7 linked regions of the Homo sapiens genome follow. The protein of the gene in region 5 interacts with the protein of the main gene of each other region in a pairwise test. Each region holds a gene or a part of one and is shown on either strand. Other genes may lie near its edges.

Region 1 (3,500 bases), on a different chromosome or scaffold from region 5:
TTGGATGCTGTATTTCACCCTTAGGTGTTGGGCAAAGGCTGACATGTCTGCAGAGGGCAGGGCGTGTTGTTGGCAAAGCTAGCCAGAGGCAGAGCACTCTCTCACTTTTTGATAGAGACATGAGTTCAGAGAAGTATTGCTCAACTGTAGGAGTGTGAAAGTACAGTAATAGATGTGAGGGAGGCCACAGGGCAGAGGTCTGCAAACGATGGACCCTCAGCCAAATCTGGCCCACTGCCATTTTTTTTTTTTTTTTTTTTTTTTTTTTGAGATGGAGTCTCACTCTGTTGCCAGGCTGGAGTGCAATGGCACGATCTCAGCTCACTGCAGCCTCCGCCTCCCAGGTTCAAGAAATTCTCCTGCCTCAGCCTCCTGAGTAGCTGGGATTACAGGCACCAGCCACCATGCCTGGCTAATTTTTGTATTTTTAGTAGAGACAAGGTTTCACCATGTTGGCCAGGCTGGTCTCGAACTCCTGACCTCAGGTGATCCACCCCCGCTTGGCCTCCCAAAGTGCTGGGATTATAGGCGTGAGCCACCACGCCCAGCATTTTTTTTTTTTTTTTTTTTTTGAGGCAGGGTCTAACTCTGTTGCCCAGGCTGGAGTACAGTGGCACAGTCTCGGCTCACTGCAGCCTCCGCCTCCTGGGTTCAAGTGATTCTCCTGCCCCAGCCTCCCAAGTAGCTGGGACTACAGGTGCACGCCACTACGCCTGGCTCATCTTTGTATTTTTTTGGTAGATACGGGGTTTCACTGTATTGGCCAGGCTGGTCTCAAACTCCTGGCCTCAAATGATCCACCCACCTCAGCCTCCCGAAGTGCTGGGATTACAGGCGTGAGCTACCGCATTCAGCCCCACTGCCTGATTTTGTTCATAAAGTTATATTGGTATGCAACCCCTCCTGTTTACACATTGTTTATGGTTGTTCTTGTGGTCTAGTGGCAGAGTCACTGCAAAGACTTTTTCTGTCCTTTACAGGAAAAGCATGCTGGCCCTAGCCATAGGGAGTCATGGTAGCTGTGGCCACCCAGAGAGGACGTTCCAGCCACCATTGCAGTTTAGCTGGTGTTGCTAGGTAGATCATGGATCTAGGTCCAGCCTGCAAATATTGCCATCTTTCCTGATTTTCAAGGGAAGCTTGAAATCTAGATTTTTTTTTTTTTTTTTTTTACTGTGAATATTCCTTTTTTTTTTTTTTTTGAGACGGATTCTCATTCTGTCGCCCAAGCTGGAGTGCAGTGGCATAATCTTGGCTCACTGCAACCTCCACTTCTTAGGTTCAAGCAATTCTCCTGCCTCAGCCTCCCGAGTAACTGGGACTACAGGCGCTCGCCACCACACTTGGCTAATTTTTTGTATTTTTTAGTAGAGACAGGGTTTCACTGCATTAGCCAGGATGGTCTCGCTCTCCTGACCTCATGATCTGCCTGCCTCGGCCTCCCAAAGTGCTGGGATTACAGGTGTGAGCCACTGAGCCCGGCCAAATATTCCAATTTTTAAACATCAGCTCAGTTTTTAAAAGCCAAACCTTAGTAACCCAAGCAAAACACATCTACAGGCCAGTTTGTCCGTCGTCAGTCTGTCTTGGTGGGAAAGACAGGAACTCTGGAAACAGATTTGGGTTTTCTCAGTCCCTGGATATCCTTGGGCAAGCTGCATGTCTTCTGGTGACTCACTTTTCTCAGTTGTGGTATGGAAATATCCCGCTTCCCCAGTTGTGAGGACCAACGAGAATTACTAGTCAGGTGGAGGGGCTTAGCACGGTGCCTGGTGCCTGGTAAACCTTTACCTGGTAGCCATTGCTGTTATTCATTTATTTATTTATTTTACACAATAATTTACTTATTGAGAGCCTTCTCTCCCCGCCCTTGCAGTCTCTAGGTCACTTTTTCCACTTGTAGATTTTGTGCACAAGCCCCAGAAAGATGGCTGGGGGCAGGGGCTCTGCGTACTATTCGATGAGACCCATAACGTGGCTGTAACTGTCTTTCTCATACTGCAAGAACACGGCTGGCAGATCCAGCTCCTCGTATAGTGCCTTCACCCGGGCCACCTTCTCGGCCTCCTTCTGCCTGTAATTTTCCTTCAGGATCTGGTACTGTTCTGGAGTGGCCTGTAGCAGACACTGAACCACCAGCCAGCTGCATTTGTTGTCCTGGAAGTCATTGCCAACTCTGCCAGTCACACTGGGGTCCCCAGAGAAGTCAAGGTAATCATCCTGAATCTGAAAGAACTCTTGAATCTCCAGCAGGATCTTCTTGGCACTGGTGTGCTCCTTCTTGTCATCCATTCTTGACATGTACATGGCTGCAGCTACAGGAAGGTAGAAGGAGTAGAAAGCTGTCTTGTACTTGACAACAGATTTGTGCCTTTTTTCGGTGCATCTGCGAAGATCCACATTGCCCTGGGGGGTTGTGATGAGGTCGAGGGTCTGCCCAATCTCAGTCTGATAAGAATTCTGCTGGAAGAGCTCCATCAGGTTCAGGTAATAGGGCTGCTCCCGGCAATACAGCTTCAGCAGGCAGTAGATACATGCTTCCAGAAGGATAGCATCATTGATGGCATCCAAACCCATGCCCAGCTTCTGATACCAGGAGATCTGTCCCTGGCAGGTAAGGGATGAATCCATAATGTCATCTGCCACCAGGAAGAAAGCTTGCAGCAGTTGCGCATACCAGCCCACAGTCGGTGCCCACTGGAGACTATCAGCATCCAGTTTCCTCGGCTCCACCAGCTCCCGGAACGCTACTAGCACCATCAAACCTCGGTGATACTTGCCTCCAATGGCATTGTACTCCAGGACCTCCTTGAGCCGGGCAGTAGCATCTCCTGTCTCTGGGTGCCCCATCTCATCCTCAGTCAGCACCCTAACGATCTGGGAGTAGTGCTGAACGAAATCCTGCTTTGCTTGGGCATAAATATCTGATTTCTGGTTTCCATTCGTTCTTTTTTTTTTTTTTTTTTTTTTTGAGACGGAGTCTTGCTCTGTCGCCCAGGCTGGAGTGCAGTGGCGCGATCTTGGCTCACTGCAAACTCCACTTCCTGGGTTCACGCCATTCTCCTGCCTCAGCCTCCCTAGTAGCCGGGACTACAGGCACCCGCCACCGCGCCCGGCTAATTTTTTGTATTTTTAGTAGAGACAGGGTTTCACCATGTTAGCCACGATGGTCTCGATCTCCTGACCTCGTGATCCGCCCGCCTTGGCCTCCCAAAGTGCTGGGATTACAGGTGTGAGCCACCGCGCCCAGCCTGGTTTCCATTCATTCTGAGGGAGGAGCAAAGGGCTGTGTTCCTGGATGCGGGTTCCTGCTTGGCTGTTATTTATTTTTTTTTAAAGAGACAGGGTCTCGCTCTGTTGCCCAGGTTGGAGTGTAGTGGCACGATCATAGCTCACTGCAACTTTGAACCCCTGGGCTCAAAGCAGTCCTTCTGCCTCAGCCAGTCAAAGTGCTGGGATCACAAGGTGTGAGCCACTGCACCAGGCCTGCTATTACTGTT
Region 2 (4,093 bases), on a different chromosome or scaffold from region 5:
ACTCAAAAGGTGGAGGGGGGCCGGGAGCCGTGGCTCATGCCTGTAATCCCAGCAGTTTGGGAGGCTGGGGTGGGCAGATCACCTGAGGTCAGGAGTTTGAGACCAGCCTGGCCAACATGGCGAAACCCCGTCTCTACTAAAAATACAAAAATTAGCCAGGCGTGGTGGCAGGCGCCTGTAATCCCGGCTACTCAGGAAGCTGAGGCAGGAGAATCACTTGAACCCAGGAGGCGGAGGTTGCAGTGAGCTGAGATCGTGCCATTGCACTCCAGCCTGGGCAACAAGAACGAGACTCCTTCTCAAAATATATATATATTATATATATATAAAGGTGGAGGAGATGGGAGGGGGTGAAGGATGAAAAATTACTTAATGGGTATGATGTACATTATTTGGCTGATGGATGCTCTAAGAACCCTGACTTCAGCACTATACAATCTGTGCATGTAACAAAAGCACTTGTTTATTTTATTTATTTATTTATTATTTTTTTGAGATGGAGTTTCGCTCTTATCATCCAGGCTGGAGTGCAGTGGTGCAATCTCGGATCACTGCAGCCTCCACCTCCTGGGTTCAAGCAATTCTCCTCCCTCAGCCTCCCGAGTAGCTGGGATTACAGGCATCCGCCACCATGCCCAGCTAATTTTTTTGTAATTTTAGTAGAGACGGGTTTTCGCCATGTTGGCCAGGCTGGTCTCAAACTCCTGACCTCAGGTGATGTGTCTGTCTCGGCCTCCCAAAGTGCTGGGATTATAGGCATGAGCTACCGCGCCTGGCTACAAAAGCACTTGTTACCCCATAAACTTATACAATTTCTTTAAAAAGCAGCCGCGATCTCTTGAGGAGGGCAGAGCCTTTGTGACCTAATCACCTCTGAAAGGCCCTGCCTGTCAACACTGTTGCATCAGGGATTAAATTTATCTTTTGAGATGGAGTTTCACTCTTGTTGCCTGGGCTGGAGTGCAATGGTGCAATCTCAGCACACTGCAGCCTCCGCCTCCCGGGTTCAAGGAATTCTCCTGCCTCAGCCTTCCAAGTAGCTGGGATTACAGGCATCCACCACCACGCCCAGCTAATTTTGTATTTTTTTAGTAGAGCTGGGGTTTCACTGTGTTAGCCAGGCTGGTCTCAAACTCCTGACCTCAAGTGATCCACCCGCCTTGGCCTCCCAAAGTGCTGGGATTACAGGTGTGAGCCACTGCACTCAGCCGGGATAAAGGCTCCACCTGTGAACACTGTTGCATTAGGGATTACATTTCTGACACATGAACTTTGAGGGACAAAAAACATAGCAGAGAACACAGCCAGAGAGGGGCTTGGCAAGAAGCACTGGTGACTGGTGACAGAAAATAGGAACTTGCACTACTGTGTCCCTCACCTTCTGATTGTTCTGCCTCAGCTTCCACTCATCTGCCTCCCAGATGGGCCCGCCACTCTGTCCACACTGCTTCTGCCACCTCACCATTGCAAACCAGTGGGGGTGGGGGCACAGGGTGTGTTCAGTGATGAGGTCAGGAGTAGCCAGGTGCCAAGTGCCTTGCAGGCTGTGGTTGCGAGTTTGGGTTTATTCTTGGTGTGATGGGAGGCGAAGGAAGGGTTTTAAGGACATTGTATTTGGGGGTGGGAGTGGCTTATACTTCATGAAAGAGCGCTCTGCTGGGAAAGGTGGTCAGGAGCCGTAGCCCAGAGGCCAGATGAAGCCTTCTGCAGTGGTTCGGACTAGGGATAGTGGCTGGCCCGTGTTTGAGGATGCAGGGCAGTGGGTCAGCAGATAGAGTTAGTAGCCCCAGGGTCATGAGGGTTCTGGGAACCTCACCTCCACCCTCACCCCCAGATTGCCAAGGACATGGAACGCTGGGCCCGCAGTCTCAACAAACAAAAAGAAAACTTCAAAAATAGCTTCCAGCCTATCAGCTCCCTGCGAGATGACGAGAGGCGGGAGTCAGCCACTGCAGATGCTGGCTATGCCATCCTCGAGAAGAAGGTGTGTTGGGGCCACCCCCCTGCACCCTGCCCCACAATCTTGTCCTTCCTTTGGGCCCTCTGTGGAGTCCCTGAATTTCTGTGTCCCTCCACCCCAGGGAGCACTAGCCGAGAGACAGCACACCAGCATGGATCTCCCGAAATTGGCCAGTGACGACCGCCCAGTGAGTGCCCAAGGCAGAGAGGGGCGGGGGCTCTGATCTGGCCAGGCCTGACCGCCCACCCTCACCCTCTACAGAGCCCTCCGCGAGGACTGGTGGCAGCCTACAGCGGGGAGAGTGACAGTGAGGAGGAGCAGGAGCGTGGGGGCCCTGAGCGGGAGGAGAAGCTCACCGACTGGCAGAAGCTGGCCTGTCTGCTCTGCCGACGCCAGTTCCCCAGCAAAGAGGCGCTCATCCGGCACCAGCAGCTCTCAGGGCTCCACAAGGTAACAGCGGATGGTTGGCAGGGCATGCTGGGGCCTGGCCCACTGAGGCTCATCCTCTTCACTTCTCATCCTGTCCCTCTTGCAGCAAAACCTTGAGATTCACCGGCGAGCCCACTTGTCAGAAAACGAGCTAGAAGCACTAGAGAAGAATGACATGGAGGTGAGGTGTGACCTGACCCTGGGCTCCCTCCCCTGTGTCCCTTCCAAGTCCCCATCACCTCAGGCAGCTGGAGTTCAATTTCTCACGTGTTAACCCCGTGAGCCTTCTTCCCCATTTTCCTATCCTGGCTGCTTGTGCCTGTGATGGCCTGACCCTCAGGACCTGAGCCTCATTAGCCAGATGGCATGCCCTGTGGGACCCCACTCCCCATGCCTGTGTTGCCTGAGAAAAGAGACCAGCTCCCCAACATTCACATACACATACAAACTTTCAGCAAATGAAGTACCGGGACCGTGCAGCTGAACGCAGAGAAAAGTATGGCATCCCCGAGCCGCCAGAGCCCAAGAGGAGGAAGTACGGCGGCATATCCACAGCCTCTGTGTGAGTGGCTGGGCCAGGTGAGGGGGTCTGGAGCCCGGGGCCGGGGCCGGCAGGCCGACCACTCATGCTGTGCACCGCCCCTGCAGAGACTTCGAGCAGCCTACTCGGGACGGGCTGGGCAGTGACAACATTGGCAGTCGGATGCTGCAGGCCATGGGCTGGAAAGAGGGCAGCGGCCTGGGCCGCAAGAAGCAGGGCATTGTAACGCCTATCGAGGTGAGTCTCAGGCAGTCCTGTCCCATCCCCCAGCACCCCTCACAGCATCCCCCACCAGCCTGACAGAGCCTGCCTCCCTCACACAGGCCCAAACACGGGTGCGGGGCTCCGGCCTGGGTGCACGGGGCAGCTCCTACGGGGTCACCTCAACCGAGTCCTACAAGGAGACACTGCACAAGACAATGGTGACCCGCTTCAACGAGGCCCAGTGAGCAGCTTCAAGAGCAACTTCTCCACATGTTGGGTGTCCATCCTGGGGCAGGGAAGGACAGAGTGTTGGATGGCTGGGACGGGGCCTTGCTCTTGTCGGCCAGCCCACTCCCCAGCCAGAGAGGGCTTGACCAAATCAAATTGAGGTGGTGACTTTTGTTGGAAAATTGGGCTGGGATCACGTCCTGTTTTGTAATAAAAGCTGAAAAGTCTGCATGTTGGCCTCTCCTCTTTCTCGTGCTCTAGCACAGTTGTATAGCCTATACAGACACGGGGACCCAAGCAGATGGACAGGGGACCTTATCAGGCCAAGGTGGATGGCAGTGGTGGCATTCAGTGTCTGGAACATAATGGCTACTAGAACATGGGGTTCTGACCTGTACCCCGACCCATAATATCCTGGTTATGGCCCCTCTCCCTTGTTGGTTCCAGCAGGTTATGTTGTACCAGGAAATCTAGCACCACCAGGCATGAAGCGCCCCCTGATCAGAGCTAGGACTGGGAACCCCCATCCCCTGTCCTTGCTGCCCCCTGGCTTTACTTAGCCTGCAGTCCCAAGGCTAAACTGCATTTTGCCATCCCTAGATCTGGAGACAATGCCCTCAGGCATCTCCAAGTAGAATACAAGAGGTACTCAGGTTCCAGTTGGCCCAGAGCCCTCAACAGGCTGATGACAGAGGGGTGGAGGTGGAGCTTGGCCTGCAAATCCAAGGCCA
Region 3 (2,922 bases), on a different chromosome or scaffold from region 5:
TTTCTTTATAAATTACCCATTCTCAGGCAGTTCTTTATAGTAGTGTGAGAATGAACTAATACACCTGTCTCAAAGAAACAAAAAATCCCCACAATACTTACGAGAAAAAGGAAGGTTAGAAGCACAGCACTTAAAATCGTTGTCAGTGACACATGAAAAAAAGATGGGAAACTAATAAAAACAGTAACGCAGTTTTACACATGTTAAAATGGTTAAATACATAAATATTACATAAATATGGCACTTTACCTTGAAGAAAACCTGAAGTTTGCTTGTGGGGAAGTAGGTCTCAGAAGGGTTATAGCTTGTGTGTTACTGCTGCATGGTGGAAGGATGGAAAGTTGTCAGACCAGATGGGTGTGTTTCCTAACACACAGTGAACCAAGGTAGCTGGTAGATATTCAAGGAGTACATGTGGGTGTGGTTTTCTCTGTTCATAAAATTGTACATAAGTGTATTGAAAATTTGTGTTATGTTCAAGTTGTTACCTAATACATCAACCTCATTGAAACAAATTTGTGTTTTCAAAACAAGCATTATAGGAGAACTGATTGTAATTGAAATATTACATAACTCTTTAAAATCACTAGTTTTCAGCAAGTGTTTATAATCCTGGGGATGGAGGAGTAGAAAGCATAATTTGTAAAAGTTCCCAGGTTGATTCTTGAGAGACTGAATTGATTCTTGATAGGGTGTTTCATCTTATCATATTAAACTATGAAAATGAATTTGAACTACAATCTTACATTGGCAGAGCTGTGGTGATATCAGTAGTCATTTTCCTCCTTTGCTAATTTTATTACAATTTTACCTCTCTAGTCTCTCCTAGTTTGTTTTCAAAGTGAGGAGTTAGTTTTTCATACATTAGCCGTTACCATGAGTTAAGGAAGTTCTCAGCCATGTGAAAATTTCTGAAGCTTAGGAAACATAGGGCCAAAGTATAGATACCTCGCTTCTCCCAAGAGAGAGAAGCCTCTAGAAAAAAATGAATAGTTCTAAGAGACCACACATGTCATATGATCATTTGTGATCATATGAGCTACATTTAGTTGACATTGCCTTATTGGTATGAAAATTTATTCAGAGAAATATAATTTTGTTGGCATTATGGTATGCTCACCACCCCCAACAATTCAACAAAAAAAGCACTCTGCATTGTTTTTATTTATTTATTTTGAGACGAATCTCACTCTGTCACCCAGGCTGGAGTCCAGTGGCGTGAGCTTGGCTTACTGCAGCCTCCGCCTCATGGGTTGAAGTGATTCTCCTGCCTCAGCCTCCCGAGTAGCTGGGATTACAAGAATGTGCCACCATACCTGGCTAATTTTTGTGTTTTTACTAGGGACAGGATTTTGCCATGTTGGCCAGGCTGATTTTGAACCCCTGACCTCAGGTGATCTGCCTGCCTCAGCCTCCCAAAGTGCTAGGATTACAGGTGTGAGCTACCATAATTGTTTTTAAAATCATGCCTTAAGATTAGTCAAGGTATTTATAAAGTTTTTTCCATATGTGAAATTTTGTTTTCTTGTATCCTTGTCCTATTTAGAGTAGATATAAAAATTAATCTTGCACCATATTTGTGCAATTAAAAAATATGTATTTTTTTATTGACAGAGTCTCTCTCTGTCGCCCAGGCTGGAGTGCAGTGGCACCATCTTGGCTCACAGCAACCACCACCTCCCCAGTTGAAGGGATCCTTATGCCTCAGCCTTCCAAGTAGTTGGGATTACAGGCATGCGCCACCACACCTGGATAATTTTTGTATAATATTTTTTAGTAGAGACAGGGTTTTGCCATGTTGGCCAGGCTGGTCTCCAACTTCTGGCTTCAAGTGATCTGCCCACCTTGGCCTCCCAAAGTGCTGGGATTATAGGTGTGAGCCACCATGCCCAGCAATAAATATTTTAACACCACAGAAAATGTAAAATTTCTAAGAAAAAAATGCTGTGCTGATGATGATCAGAATTTACTGGTGAAAATGTAAAACAAACAAACAAAAAAGAATTTACCAGTGAAAAGTAAGAGCTATGCAAGGTCAAGAAGTAGATTCTTTAAGTATGACAAGAAATCATTGTTCTAATTGCACTGCTATGTCTTAGTTCCCTGAAGTATTGTTGAAGTATTTGGGTGACTGGAAAATCTATACTGCTGTTTTTCCTTTTTTGTCAGTGAAAGATAAGGCAGAAATACTTCTGCAAGTTGATGAATCACAAAGTATCAAGAATGAGCTCACTATTCAGGTAAGGAACTGTGGAGCATACATGACTGGTTTTCTTAAGCTGTCTTTAGTCTTGAATTATTAAACTTAACAAATACAGCTCATCAACACTGTAAGGATGTAGTATAAATTATACTTTATTATTATGTAATAGCCCATGAATGAAGATTCTGTTTACAGCACTAAAAGAGGTAGGTATGTCCTTCCCCCTGAAGAATAGGGGATGATAAGGCTGTATTTTAATGAACCATGAATTTAGAGACAGAAAGGGCCAATAGAACTTAACCCTGTATCTGGGCTTGATTTTTCTCCCCTTCACATCCTTATTGTCTTCTTCTCTCAGGACAGTTTGCCCCATCTTTAACATAGAGCTGTGTACAATACCAAATGGAAATTATGGGGGGAGCTTCTCTGTTACTCATCCATTTAGCTGTCAAAAACCTATCATTGTGAATATGTTAAGAATTGAGTATTTGCCAAAAACCCCAAAAATTCTTTTTCTTATTGAATATTTGGTTATAGGTGACTTCACTTCATGCTGCATTAGAACAAGAAAGATCTAAAGTGAAAGTATTACAAGCAGAGTTAGCCAAATACCAGGTATGCTTTTATAATTTATAAGTGTTTTTATCACAAATAATACATTTGGAGTAGATACTGTGTGAGAATAAATGCAGTATTTTATTCTTAGGCCAAAATTTATT
Region 4 (3,500 bases), on a different chromosome or scaffold from region 5:
AGCCTATGAAGCCAGAGGTGGTGAGTGGCTGCCGGCCCAATAAGGAACAGCCCTTTCCCTGAGTAGTTTCCCAGGGCAAGTCACTTAGGAAAGATCACTTCAGACCTAGGACTGGGGAGGGAGGGTCAGCCTGTCTTGTGCATGTGCAGGCAGGAGTGGTGGGAACTCAAAGTTAGAAGACCTGCAGTCTGACGCCAGAGCCCTGGTGAGGGTACTGTGGCTGATGTGTGTGCAGGATGGGGGCGGGGAGAGGCAGGCATCGCCTGCAGATGCTAATGGAAGGGCCACAGCGGTAGTGGAATTATGGAATGTCATTAACCCTCAGCTGTGATCTTCAGAAAAGCCATTAACCCCCAGCCATGGAGGCAGACCTGCTTCCCCTGGGGACAGAGCCTTCATTCCATGGCCCCTCCACGCCCACCGCCTTATTTCCCCTGGGCCCACCCACATCCACCTCTGCCTGCTCTGCCCAGGCATAGTGGCCGCCATCTGGAGGAGTAGCTGCTGGGAGCAGATGCTGGGCTGGGGTCTCTAGGGATCTAGGACCCCTTGGCTCTGGGTCTGGGTCTGCCTCAACCTTGCTGTGTGGCCTTCAAGTCCCTTCTCCTCTTTGGGACCTACTTTTCCCATCATCCCATGGGGATATGCCTCAAACTCCTCACTTTGAAAGCCTGTTGTAAGGTTAAAGGAGACAATGGATGTTTTGCTATTAAGATGTAAGTTCAACTTCACTGAACTCAGCAAATGTTGACTCTGGGGGGCTTCTCCATTCCAGATGCCTGTGGGGTGCTGTAGAGCCAGACTCTGCCCCCGACCCTGTAGCCCACCATCATCCAGGAGGATAGGGGACAGACAGACAGACAGACAGACAGACACACACACACAAACATGTAGAGTCCTAAGCAAGCTGTGGTTGTGGGAGCTGGGGTGTGCGAGGAGAAAGCCATGACTTCTGACCCCATTCCTCAGGGAGGACCTGAAGGACAAGGGCAGTAGGTAAGGAAGAGGAAGGCCATTCCAGACTGCGAGTGCAGCAGAGGTGGAGGCTGGAGGTGGGAAGGGGCAGTGTGGGTGTGGAGAACAGCAAGCTGTCCAGTGGGGCTGCAGAATGCCTGTATGAGCTGGAGCCATAAGCCAGGAGGCTGGAGGGCACAGGGCCTGTGGACCTGGCTGAGAGTGGGATTTGCCTTGTCGTGATAGTAACAGGGGGCCCAGGGGAAGGGCTAGGCAGGGGATGCCCTGGCTGCTCCTCAGAGAATGGATGGCAGGGGCCTGAGGGGAGGCTAGCACTAGGGCAGGGTCTGTGGGGATGGAAGGGGCCCCAGGAGAGCTTGGGGACAGGCCAGCTGTGGGGCTGAGAGAGGAGGGGATGGTGGTGGGCACACATGGCTTCCCGGAGCTCCACTCCAGCTCTGTAGGAGACCAGAACAACAGGAGCAGCCTGTTGGGCAATGGGCCCCTTCCAAGGTGCCGGGGTAGGAGTAACTTACACGGCCCACCCTATGTTGGTTCCAGCAGGCTGGACCAGGTGAAGTCCGACAGGCCATCTACCCCTTAACTCACCAGTTCAGCCTTTGCCATCATCACCAGGCTCCACTGAGGGCCACCTAGCCCACCACCATGCCCCTCCTTGCCTCATCACCAGCAGATGGCCCTTGGGTTCGGGTGGCTCCGCCTCCATAACCTTCCACATTTATACCAGCAAGGCAGAGCCACACCCCTCCTTAGTGATTGGCTCAGGGAAGTGCATGTAACCCAATCCTGGCTAATCAGACAGGAAGGAGGTCTGCTGAGGGATGGCTGGGTAAGGTTGGTTTCCAGTTGCTCTTTAAAACCACCTACAAGAAGAGAGGGTGCTGCTGGGTGCGGTGCCTCAGGCCTGTAATTCCAGCACTTTGGGAGGCCAAGGTGGGCGTATCGCCAGAGGTCGGGAGTTCAAGATCAGCCTGGTTAACATGGTTGAACCCTATCTCTACTAAATATACAAAATTAGCTGGGCATGGTGGCGCTCGCCTGTAATCCCAGATACTCGGGAGGCTGAGGCAGGAGAATTGCTTGAACCCAGGAGGCAGAGGTTGCAGTGTGAGCCAGGATTGCGCCACTGCACTCCAGCCTGGGGGACAGAGACTTGGTCGCAAAAAAAAAAAGAGAGGCTGCCTCTTATCTGCTGGTCTTTCATTCTATTTGGATGAAGTGCCCCCATGAGCCGTTAGCCAGCTGAAGATGGTAATTCGGGGTGTTGGAAAGATCCTGAGACCTCGAGGATGCTTCTGAGCCTGAGCATCCACCAATTCTGGCAGCATTCTATGTCGTGAGTTGATGTGGTGTGTGACAATAAATATCCTTAGTATTTAAGCCGATCCAAGTTGGGGTTTCTGTTACTTGGAGCCAGATGTGAAAAGGGCAGTGGTGAGGCTGGCCTCAGAGGGGACACTGGCACTAGGGGAGGTACAGCTCTGTTAAGAGTGGAACCCATTTACCTTGGACCCTGGGCCTGGACACTTTGCAAAGATTATCCTTTGAGTTCTCCTAACAGATTGGAATCAATGAGTCTGGAGAAAGGAGCAGCTTACCAAAGGTCATGCAGCCAGTAAGTTACAGAGCTGGGGTCAAACCCAGGTCAAACAGTGCTTTTGCACAGTGACAGTTGGTGAGAAATCACAGCCCCCCAAGATGTCAGAGAGGGCAGGCCCTAAAATTACCAAGTCCAATCCCACCCCCTCAAGTGTAGAGATGAGGGGACTGACGCTCAAAGGGAACAGGGCAGGGGTCTGTGTGAAGACTGAGCTCACGCTGCTGACTGGTGCCCCTCCAGGTATGGCTCTGCCCGGGCAATCCCCACCCCTCCTTACCACAGCAGCCTGCTCCTGTTCTCTCACTGCTGCACCTGGGCACCTCTGTGCCAGCTGCCAGCAAATTCCCAACCTGGCCCAGCTGCCATGGGGTTGGGTGATGTTCAACAGGTGTCCTGCCATTGCTGGACCGGGTCCCACACATGCAAAAGGCACTGGGAACAAGTCTCTGTAGTGAGTGGCACCTCTCCTACCCAGACTAGTTAGGCAGCAAAGGCAGCCAGAGAAAGCCTGGGGGTGGGAGGGGGCACACTCATTAAAGCAGGCAGTGCCTCTTGCCCCTTGGGACAGCCTGCTGATTGGTTCTTAATTTTCTGGGCAAATGCAGGGCCATGTGTGAGGTAACTCTAGGGAAATCAGGCAAAGGATTGGTTTGGGTTTGAAGCCTCTGTCCCCAGGGTCCCCCTTTGTCCCACTCCTCCCCACCACCATCACTCTACCCCATGTCTGAGCCTTCTTCAAATGTCTTTGCCTTTAAATGAAGCCTGGGCTCCAAAGGGGTGTCTTGTTCTATTTTTGCTATGCCAGACATAAGCACTGGTGGGCAGACAATAGGAGGGACCTCCAAAAATCCCTCTGTCCCCCAAGGCCCCTAGGAATGTTGGGACCATCGTGTAGGGCAAGCTGGCAGTGAAGCGCAGATCATGA
Region 5 (4,295 bases):
GTCCCCTATCCCCATCAGACCAGGAGCAGGAACTCCTGTTTCTCCCTCCTCTTGGCTTTCCCCAACTCCCCAACCCCAAACAAGATTGTGCTCTCCTCTCTGAGGGCTTACAGAGTATGGACGCAGTAGCACTGGGGGATCCCTCCCCAGCCCCCGGAGAGGGCCCCCCACCACTGCTCCTCCGGCTTCCACTGCCAGCATCTGAAGAGGCACTGCCAGAGGTGGAGGGCTGGGCAGGGGTGGCGGGTGAAGCAGGCGTGGTGGAGGGTGCTGAGGCAGGGTCAGGTGTGGAGGGGGAAGAAGCAGTGGCAGCAGCTGGATCTTGAGCCCTGAGGACAGAGAAAGGAGAATCCTGTTGGAGTGAGCACTAGAAGAGGGAAGGTACCGTGACAATCTCTGTGCTTGCTATGGGACAACTATTTTAACCCAAGACCCCTCCTGAGCAGTCCTGAGGCTGGAGTGGGGTGATGGCGGGAGGGCAGTCAGTAAACCAGCAGAGGGAGAAAGGAGCTAGTATTATCTGTCTTCAGGGCATTCTGGGAATGGTAAATCAGGTTCCCTTCCCCTAGAGATGAGATCATATTCATCCAGGAGCTACCTGCCTGGGCCTCAGCTTAGGCCCTCTGGGTACAGTTAAGCAATGAGTGAGAAAGTATCAGATGGGGAGGCCCAATCAGAAGCTGGATCTGCTCTGCTCCTGAACTTACTTCTGAGGGGTCTTGATGACCAGATGGACAGTGAGCCCGTCCTTGATTCCGTGCTGGTTCAGTGTGTCCCCATCCTTGAGGATCTTGCCTGCGAAGATCAGGACCAGCTGATCCTGCTGAGCCTTAAACCTCCGGGAGATTTCCTCTTTGAACTGTGATCAAGAGGCAGAGGTCACTGTGGAGGCTGCCTGGACTCCCCCTACCAGGGACCCTGACTCTTTTTCAACACCTTCTGCACTCTCTTGCTCTCATCTCTAGTCATGGGAAGTCCTTTCTGTAGTCTCGACGCCATTCCTCCAGCTGCAATAAGCATCTCCTTTCTTAACAAAGGAGATGAACCAGTGAGAGGCTCTTCTCTCAGCTCCATCCCAGAGTCTCCCACCCTAGAAAGCCCCTGCTGCTATCTGCCTCCCAGCTTCAGTCCCTCCACCTAGTTCTCTGTAAGGCAGAGCAGCCTCCCATCCCAACTCCTTCAACAGCTTTGGACCTTCAGCCTTCTGAGACCCAATTTTCTCTCCTCTCTATTCCCAGTATTCTCTTAACAACTACAACAAATAGATGCCAGTTATTGAGCACTACCTATTCACCAGTTAAAGATATAGTATATTGTTATTTTCATTTTATTATTATTTTTATCTTGAGATGGAGTCTCGCTCTGTAGCCCAGGCTGGAGTGCAGAGGTGCGATCTTGGCTCACTGTAACCTCCATCTTCCGGGTTCAAGTGATTCTCCTGCTTCAGCCTCCCGAGTGTCTGGGACTACAGGCACACACCACCATGCCTGGCTAATTGTATTTTTAGTAGAGACGGGGTTTCACCATGTTGGCCAGGCTGGTCTTGAACTCGTGACCTCAGGTGATCCACCAGACTCAGACTCCCAAAGTGCTGGGATTACAGGTGTGAGCCACCACGCCCAGCCGTATCTCCATTTTAAAGATGAGAAAACTGAGGATCAGCGAGGTAAGGTAACTTGCCCCAGGCAGACCAGAACTCAGGTCTTGACACCAAAGTCCAGGCTCTTAACTAAACACACTGCCTCTCAATGAGAGCCGTTTTCAAATTCAGCTTTGTAGGGAACATACAGTATTTAAATTCTGAAATTTAGTAATTCTATGTGGTTAGGGAGGGAGCAAGGATGGAGTTAGACTTCCCAAATTCTACCAGCCCCTCCAAAACACAACACAAAACAAAACACAACACACACTTTAAGTAAAAACAGTGCACTTGTTAAGCAGAGGCTGCTTCCAGATCCCTCTCTTCCAACCAGATGGCCTATCTTAAGCCCCGCCTATGTGAAATTATGGAGCGGCCACAGGGGGTGGCGAACACAGGCAACAGTCCGTCATTCAACAAGATTTTATTGAGCACCTACTGCACACCGTGTAAATCTCAGAAGAGCTGAGAACCAAATGTAACCACGTCGATTTGAAAGAGTGGGAAGGATCTGGGCACAGGGAAATCCTCCCCCGACAGCCCCGTCGCTCAGAGAACACTGGGCGTTCTCTGAGGCACAGAGTAGGCGCCGGCGCTCTCCGCCTGCCCCCGGCCCGTTCTCTCAGTTAGCACCTAGCCCGGGCCCCCACTCCGGCACACTCCCCTCAAACCCAGGGTCCTTCCCCCTTCCCGGTGCAAGGTGTCCCCTCCTCACTCTCCACCACGCCCCCAGGCCACAAGGCAAAACCCGCCCCTCAACACGCGCCACGCTCCCCCAGATCTCCCCTCGCAGGGCGCCCCCTACCCGCCTCTCCTTGCCTTCAGCTCCTCGGAGTCCCAGCCGGCCCCCGCCCTCCTCTCCGGGGCCCTCCGGGACGCCGGACCGTCAGAGAGGCCCCCCATCTCTTCGCAGACCCCTCCTCCGCGCTCCCCCCGCCCCCCGCCTGCTGTACTACCTCCTTGACCGAGGCTCGATCGCAGATCACAATTTCCTCCTTGTCCTTGGGGGTCTTGACGGTGACCCGAATGGGGGGCCTCGTCTCGGCCCCGCTCGGCTCCGCCATGCCGCCGCCGCCACCCGGCCGCCCGCCAGCCCGCCCGGCTCCTCCTCCTCCCCGCCCGCCCGGCCGGCCCGGCTCGGCTTCTGCGCCTCCAACACTCCCCTCTCTCCACCTCTCCCCTCCCCTCCCCTCCCCTCCTCTCTCCTCCCCTCCCCTCCCCGAGGCTTCACCGCCCCCTCCGGACCAGCCGCAGCCACAGCGCCCCGGGCGGACCGGGGGGGCCACTGCAGCGGGGTCCGCCCAGGGCCAAGCCCCAGGTCCGGAGCCCGGCCAGGGTCTCGCCAGGCGGGGGCCCCTGGGGGGCCTCTGGGAGGGGGAAGGGGCGTGCCCTTCATTGCGGGGGCGAGGGCGGACTGCCCCGGGAGACCGCGACCCAACGCTGCCCGCCCGAGCCGTGCCGCGGTCCCCTCCAGCCCAAAGCCTCCCCGCCCCCTCCGCGGCTAACTCGGCTCCGGGACAAAGGACTTTCTGTGTCGCCGCTTTATCTCCGTTCCCTGTGATAACTTGGTCTTTCTTGGAAGCCCAAGTCCCTTCCAGGCCAGGGGACTTTCCCGACTTGGAGGTTGGGTTTTCCCACCAAGCACGTCCACCTAGGTTCTCAGCTCTGGGACTGACCCTATAGCCCCGAGGGTCGCGGCCTGAATGGTCTATTAAGAACGGTTCCAGGGAGCTGGGTTTTGGCTGCGTGGCCTTTCAGAGCCTTGGTTTCCTCAAGATAATAATAATAGTACCTCTCGCCTCATCGCACAGAATTGTGCATAACGGAGAAAACTGTTTTGAAAGTAACCAAAGGCGTGCCTGACAAATATGAGGATGTAGTATAATTATTGAATCGTGGACTGCCAAGCGGACACGTTGATTCCTTTCTCCCCGAAGGGGTTAAATGTCCTTCCAGCGCTGCTGCTGTCCTTTCACTCCCGTTCTTTTCCGCCCCCCAACAACCGCGTGGTCGGCTTGGAAAGGCGAACTATAATTCCCAGGGTGCCTCGCGAGGCCACAAAGAACTACGATTCCCAGAGCCCCCCGCGGTGGGGCGGGGTTGAGTCGGAACCACAATAGCCAGGCGAAGAAACTACAACTCCCAGGGCGTCCCGGAGCAGGCCAACGGGACTACGGGAAGCAGCGGGCAGCGGCCCGCGGGAGGCACCTCGGAGATCTGGGTGCAAAAGCCCAGGGTTAGGAACCGTAGGCATGCTGCGCCCCAAGGCTTTGACCCAGGTGCTAAGCCAAGCCAACACTGGAGGCGTCCAGAGCACCCTGTGAGTGCAGACCACGGACCCGAGCGGCGAGCGCTGCAGTGGGGCGGCGCGCGGCTCCCTGAGGGAGGGGTGGGGAAGGATCACCAGGAAGGGAGGAAGCGGCAGAGGGGGCAGCGGCTGGGGATACCGGCCGGGAGGTCCCCTGTCGAAAAGGGAAGCCGGTGTGCTGGGTGCTTAGGGCATGTTCCGGGACACGCTCAGGCCAGAGCCTTGCTGGATGTGCCCTTGGTGGGACTTGGGATGGAAACCCAGACGTTTTACTCCCCGCTCTGAGCACATCGCTATCCCTCCCCGCCCCTCACCAGGCTGCTGAATAACGAGGGATCACTGCTGGCC
Region 6 (3,500 bases), on a different chromosome or scaffold from region 5:
CTTGACCTCATGATCTGCCCACTTCGGCCTCCCAAAGTGCTGGGATTACAGGCGTGAGCCACCGCGCCCAGCCCTGGCAAAGATATTTTAAGCAACACTAAATTACATGTGCTTGATCATTTACCTTTAGCTATGTCTTCATCCTCTTTGTTTTTGTTCGATGACGTACCATTCTTGGCAGCAGCTGAGACAGTCTGTAAATGTATGAGTAAAATGAACACAACTATCTTTTCAAACAAAACACAAGCTCCATAATTACTTGCAGATGGTAAATTTTAAAAAATACTGATATAACTGAGTTTCATTTAAAAGTGAAGTTCTTTTTTGAGACAGGGTCTCATTCTGTCAGCCAGGTTGCAGTGCATGGCACAGTCATAGCTCACTGTAACCTCCAACTCCTGGGCTCAAGTGATCCTCTTGCCTCAGCCTCCTGGGAAGCCGGAACTAGAGGTGTATGCATCCACAACCGGCTAATTTTTATTTTTTGTAGAGACAGGGTCTCACTATGTTTCCTGGGCTGATCTGCAACTCTTAGCCTCAAGTGATTCTCCTGTCTCAGCCTACCAAAGTGCTAAGATTACAGGCATGAGCCACCATCACTGGTCTAAAAGTGAAGTTCTTTATAATAATTTTAAATAATTGTTTTCAAATACTAAAATAAAACATCAGATTTTTCAAGAAAACATTATAAACTCACACAGGGATCAAACTGGCTTAGATTTTGCATAAATGTAACACAGAACTTGGCATACAGAAAGTACTTAAATATTAATAGAATTTAAAAAAGACTCTTTTCTGATTGTATTCCCGATCTCAATTGTCCAAGGTCTCTTAGTGAGAGGAGCTCTGCTATAGGAGTACAGCTACACGAGGAGTGCCAGCAAGAAGTCATGATCATCACTGAAGAGAGAGGAATGGGGACAGAGACAAGAGGTGCAGTTCTAGGAATATGTGTGAAGTCCTTTTACTAGTTATTGTGGCTGGGTGGCAGTGGTCTGCCAGACATAGCAGAGAAGTAAGGAAGGTCATGCTTGAATTTAATAAACAGCATGTAAGACAGGTATCCAGGACTGATCCATCAACCGGTTCTTTACATAGATTTTTCAGAAAAATATGCAGAAAGGACAGAACAGGAAAATGTTTCCTTTTTATTACTTATAAGACTCTTATCTCAAAACGTTACCTTGTACCCTTAGGTCTGGTCAGCTATAAAGAATCTTTTTTCGGCCAGCGTGGTGGCTCATGCCTGTAATCCCAGCACTTTGAGAGGTCGAGGCAGGTGGATCACCTGAGGTCAGAAGTTTGAGACCAGCCTGGTCAACATGGTGAAACCCCGTCTCTACTAAAAATACAAAAAATTAGCCGGGCATGGTGGTAGGCACCTGCAATCCCAGCTACTCTAAAGGCGGAGGCAGGAGAATTGCTTAAACCCGGGAGACAGAGATTGCAGTGAGCTGAGGTTGTGCCACTGCACTCCAGCCTGGGCAACAAGAGCAAAACTCCATCTCAAAAAAAAAAAAAAAAAAATCTTTTTTTCTCTTTAATCTATGATTTAAAATAAAAGAAAATATAGTACTTCTCATCGTCTCTTTCCCTAGCCCATATCTTAATATTAATGGGAAGGAATAAGGTACTGAGAGCAAAACCCAAGGAATAGTATTTTTCTCCCCTAGACCTAAAAAAACCAGCCCACTCCATGAGTCAACATCCCTGCCTCCACACCCCAGTTCTACTAAAGCTATCCCTTCTCCCAGCAAATAAATTTCTAGTCTTACATTTCCATCCATCTTGTATGTGAAGCATTCACTCTAGGCATATTCACTCTTGAACAAACAAGTCTTGAGCCTCTCAATTCCATGAATTTGTTCATTTCACTTACCTCCTGATATGACTTCTTCACTTCTCTCTAACAAAATATTAATACATTCAAGTCTCAAAATTCTACCTCTTTACCTTCTTCACCATTCCAATCTGTAGTCACCTCTTTCTCTCTTTGGTATTAAGATAGACAGTATGCAGTCTATTCCCCTCATCCTGTATTTGTCACTTACAATCTAAATTAGTTATTTTTCACATGTATAAAGCTATCATTCAAATTTGCTACAAATTTCTTGAATATAAGGGGTATGTCATATACCTATGCCTTTTGCATGACTGTAGACTTAGAGGAACATTAAATACACTATGTCTGATTAACTTCACAAGGTTCTGATATGTGGAAGAAATACACATAAAAACTAGAATGTCTACTAAACGTAAGGAAGGCACTATGCTAGAGAGTCATTTGGGAAGTAAAGGTGGAAAATGATAATCTAGACATACCTTGCCTAGTCTTTACATAACATACATACCTTCAAAATATTATAGGGTCAACCATGGGTCTGAATAAATCTCTCACCTGAGAACCTGCTGGAGGAAAAGTAATTCCTTCTTCTTTCATAGATTTAATAGTTGCAGATATCAGACTAAACTGAGGGTCCTTCTGAAATTCTTCTGACCACTCCACCATTAAAGATTTCAGTTTTTCACATACTTTAGGATGTGCCTTTTAAGGAAAAGGAAAGGAAAATAAACAAAAATCTACGGTTAAAATAAGTACTTAAATTATTTAACAAGGAGAATTACCATCAAAATTCTCTTTAATTATATGAACATCAACAAAAGTCCTGAAATTTCTAGCCTAGTTGAGTAATTGATAGATGCCTATTTACATGTTGTGATATAGTTGTTTCATACAAAATGACTGTTTTTAACACCAATTCCTAAGTCTTACTATAATGACAACAGATCTTTTATATTCAGAGATTATTTCCTCCATGTTTCGGAGAATGGAGCCAGAGAAACCTGGATGTAAATCATGGCTATTCCAGTTACCAGCTGCATGACCTTGGACAAGTTACTTCTAAGTCTCAGTTTTTGCATTTATAAAATAAGAATGATAAGGGAATCTAACTTCCAAGAATCTAATGCTCCAAGGGTAGTTAAGAGCATTCAACAAGACAGTATATGTAAAATGCTTAAAGTAATGACTACTTACTAGCCCTCAAAAAGGATTTGCTATTATTTACAGTATATATACTTTGGGGAGAATAGTTTTTGGTGCTACACATTAAAAAATCAAATTTCAGAACAGTTTATTTCATTTCAATGATCTAAAAATGACTTCATTTATAATACTTTAGTAATGCCACATATAGTTATAATGACACACAATCTACATTTTTTTAATGACTTAAAGTTCTTCTGTTTTTAAAATTTACCTTATTTTTAATCACAGCACGTACTTCTGTTGCAAAATCACGGGAACATACTTCTAAATGAAATATCTTTCCACAGTTTGCCACACAAGCCCCAAGAAGCTATTAATTGAAATAAAAATATATGAATATTGAAATATTAACTTACTGTAATTAAAAACACATTTAAAATTTGCGTCAAATAATAACATGCCTTGTACTCACAGTTAGTGCTTGCAGAGCAACATGTGGAACCTTATGATT
Region 7 (2,247 bases), on a different chromosome or scaffold from region 5:
AGGAAAATGGAGAATTTCCTTGCGACTACTGTCAGCCACGATGAGATCACCACGAGCATCCACACACATGCCAGCAATGCAGCGGAAATCCTCATTCTCCGAGAAGAAGTGGCTAATCTGGCGACCCAGCTGCCCATCAGGGCCTACAGAGCCAATGGAAAAGCCACCCTCCAGGTGGTGCTCATTCTGCCGATTCTCCAGATTGAGGCCTAAGCCCTGGGTGAAGTAGACGGTGCCCTCAGCATCACAGGTGACAAATTTGGGCCGCACAGCACTACATAGGCAGCTGTATTTGACCACCCCTGATCCTCGATCAACTGTGAAACACCAAAGCTTTCCACCTTCCACATCGGTTACTACAAACTGGCCAGATGGCAAGGCTGTGATACCCCATGGTTTGCTCAGCTGGCTCCTGTGACAGGCCACGCAGTGGCCATCCAAGGTATATACCTTGAGGGAGTTATCATAGCTGTCAGTCACACCAATCAGCCCCTGGCAGTTCATTGCCACTGAGAGAGGAGTGAGGTTGGGTAGATCTGCCCCAAGGAAGCTTAGCACAAAGCTATCAATGCCACTGGGGCTGCGGCGGATTTCCTTCAAAAAGCCTTTGCGGGTAAAGACTTGTATACGATAGTTACCACGGTCAGCGACTAGTACTTCACCTTGACTGGTCACGTAGAGACTGACTGGAAGATTGAACATTCCTGGAGTGCTGCCTTTGGCCCCCATCTTCTTGAGAAAGAGGCACTGCTGGATATTGGAGGCTGCCTCAGGACCCCGCTGTTTAGCAGGTGAGGCCCTAGGGCTGGCAACCACTTCCTCCGGGCTCATGTCCATCTCTCTAAAAGTAACAGAGGTAGAGGCAGCAGACGCTGTGGCCTCCATGGCCCAGGAATCTTCCACGTTAACTGTCCGGGGCTTCTTAACAGCTTGTCCAATTTGGAGGGGGCCAACATGACCTACCTTAAGGAGCTCCACATCTTGCAGGGTGAGCTCCCGAGGCAAGCTGGCAGTGAGCTCTGGCTCCTCCTCATCAGCTGTCTCCTCCAGTAGTGCTACATCTGCCTGCTTGATCTTGGCCAGGAAGTAGTCACAGCGAGACACAGCCTGCACCTCTGCAATGTTAAGCAGGTAACTCTGCTCCTCTACCACTTGACTATTGGACTTCTCAACTTCAGCCAAAGAGCCTGTGAAGAACTTCCGAGAGCGAGCCAGCTCATCCTGGACCCTGCGCTCCTCATGCCCATACTCCTGGAGAACTGCTTTATACCTTGCCTGAAGGTCCTTGGAGACACCTTCCAAGGCTGCCTTCCGCCGCTGCAGCTCCCCCATAAGTTCCCGCAGACGAGTTAACTTCTCTCCAAAGTCCCGACGCCGCTCCTCAGCTGCTTCTTTGACAGGGAGTGTACAGTGGCCAGGAGGCTGATGGTCTGCCTCCCGGCAGGGCTCACATAACACCAAACCACAGCTCCGGCAGAATTGCCGGGGCAGACGCCGCCCACAGGACCGACACATGAGCAGCCCCACAGCCTCGCTGAGCCCAGCTGTATCAATGATCTTTAGCACTGTCAGATTGTCTGTCAGCTGGGTCAAGCTGGTTATGCGGGTAATCTTGCTGCAAAAGGGACAGCGGACACCATTGATGCTACTGGCCAATAGCTTCTCCAGGCACTGGCGGCAGATGGTATGGCCACAGTGCAGAAGCTTGGGACGCAGCTGCTCTTCTGTGAAGGACTCCATGCAGATGGGGCATTCTAGCACTTCCCGGAGGGCATCCAGGTTCAGGTGAGAAGCTGCTGCTGCAGCCATTGCTCTTCCTTTGAAGGGTATTGCTAGCACAGCTCAGAACTGAACAGCACAGTATTCATGCCCTAGAGGGTCAAATTCCTGCTAAAGAGAAAAAGAAACCATTATTCATTTTCCTCTGACTATATAAATAAATTCACTCAAGAAACATTTAGAGAATAGCTATGACCAGTCATTCAGTCATTCCCTTACTTAACAACTATTTTATTGAGGTCTATTATATGTCACGTGAGGGTGACAGATAGGGAAACAAACCAGACAAAACACTGCATAGTGGGAAATAATTCAGATTCTGTAGTCTCAGACACTTACTTAGCTGCATGACCATAAGGAATTAACTCAAACTTCCAAAAGCTCTTTCCCCATCACTCATCTGTAAAATAGAAGTAATAATGGTGTCTGCCTTATATGGTTATTATAAGGGCTAAGTAACAAGATAAA

Evidence for each region.
Region 1: the proteins of UBQLN4 (region 5) and DTX2 interact in a two-hybrid assay, tested with the Homo sapiens proteins (one large-scale study listed by BioGRID and IntAct).
Region 2: the proteins of UBQLN4 (region 5) and RBM10 interact in a two-hybrid assay, tested with the Homo sapiens proteins (one large-scale study listed by BioGRID and IntAct).
Region 3: the proteins of UBQLN4 (region 5) and GKAP1 interact in a two-hybrid assay, tested with the Homo sapiens proteins (one large-scale study listed by BioGRID and IntAct).
Region 4: the proteins of UBQLN4 (region 5) and CCDC33 interact in a two-hybrid assay, tested with the Homo sapiens proteins (one large-scale study listed by BioGRID and IntAct).
Region 6: the proteins of UBQLN4 (region 5) and STAM2 interact in a two-hybrid assay, tested with the Homo sapiens proteins (one large-scale study listed by BioGRID and IntAct).
Region 7: the proteins of UBQLN4 (region 5) and TRIM32 interact in binary tests that used the Homo sapiens proteins (3 or more experiments, as listed by UniProt).

What each region holds. Positions count from the first base shown.
Region 1 is NC_000007.14:76,468,209-76,471,708, forward strand, and holds part of DTX2 (probable E3 ubiquitin-protein ligase DTX2), read left to right. Parts: intron 1-1,811; exon of another isoform or gene 1,812-3,500. UniProt on the Homo sapiens protein: Regulator of Notch signaling, a signaling pathway involved in cell-cell communications that regulates a broad spectrum of cell-fate determinations.
Region 2 is NC_000023.11:47,183,221-47,187,313, forward strand, and holds the end of RBM10 (RNA-binding protein 10), read left to right. Parts: intron 1-1,834; coding exon 1,835-1,984; intron 1,985-2,081; coding exon 2,082-2,147; intron 2,148-2,221; coding exon 2,222-2,410; intron 2,411-2,495; coding exon 2,496-2,570; intron 2,571-2,844; coding exon 2,845-2,951; intron 2,952-3,037; coding exon 3,038-3,167; intron 3,168-3,253; coding exon 3,254-3,379; 3' UTR 3,380-3,593; downstream 3,594-4,093. UniProt on the Homo sapiens protein: Binds to ssRNA containing the consensus sequence 5'-AGGUAA-3'. May be involved in post-transcriptional processing, most probably in mRNA splicing. Binds to RNA homopolymers, with a preference for poly(G) and poly(U) and little for poly(A).
Region 3 is NC_000009.12:83,741,848-83,744,769, reverse strand, and holds part of GKAP1 (G kinase-anchoring protein 1), read left to right. Parts: intron 1-2,169; coding exon 2,170-2,240; intron 2,241-2,740; coding exon 2,741-2,818; intron 2,819-2,922. UniProt on the Homo sapiens protein: Regulates insulin-dependent IRS1 tyrosine phosphorylation in adipocytes by modulating the availability of IRS1 to IR tyrosine kinase. Its association with IRS1 is required for insulin-induced translocation of SLC2A4 to the cell membrane.
Region 4 is NC_000015.10:74,274,326-74,277,825, reverse strand, and holds part of CCDC33 (coiled-coil domain-containing protein 33), read right to left. Parts: intron 1-3,500.
Region 5 is NC_000001.11:156,050,999-156,055,293, forward strand, and holds the start of UBQLN4 (ubiquilin-4), read right to left. Parts: upstream 2,801-4,295; 5' UTR 2,704-2,800; coding exon 2,596-2,703; intron 860-2,595; coding exon 708-859; intron 330-707; coding exon 112-329; intron 1-111. Other genes in the region: ragulator complex protein LAMTOR2, read left to right, coding at 3,892-3,959, 4,265-4,295. UniProt on the Homo sapiens protein: Regulator of protein degradation that mediates the proteasomal targeting of misfolded, mislocalized or accumulated proteins.
Region 6 is NC_000002.12:152,144,764-152,148,263, forward strand, and holds part of STAM2 (signal transducing adapter molecule 2), read right to left. Parts: coding exon 3,462-3,500; intron 3,360-3,461; coding exon 3,261-3,359; intron 2,546-3,260; coding exon 2,399-2,545; intron 195-2,398; coding exon 125-194; intron 1-124.
Region 7 is NC_000009.12:116,697,305-116,699,551, reverse strand, and holds part of TRIM32 (E3 ubiquitin-protein ligase TRIM32), read right to left. Parts: intron 2,180-2,247; exon of another isoform or gene 2,119-2,179; intron 1,891-2,118; 5' UTR 1,810-1,890; coding exon 1-1,809. UniProt on the Homo sapiens protein: E3 ubiquitin ligase that plays a role in various biological processes including neural stem cell differentiation, innate immunity, inflammatory resonse and autophagy.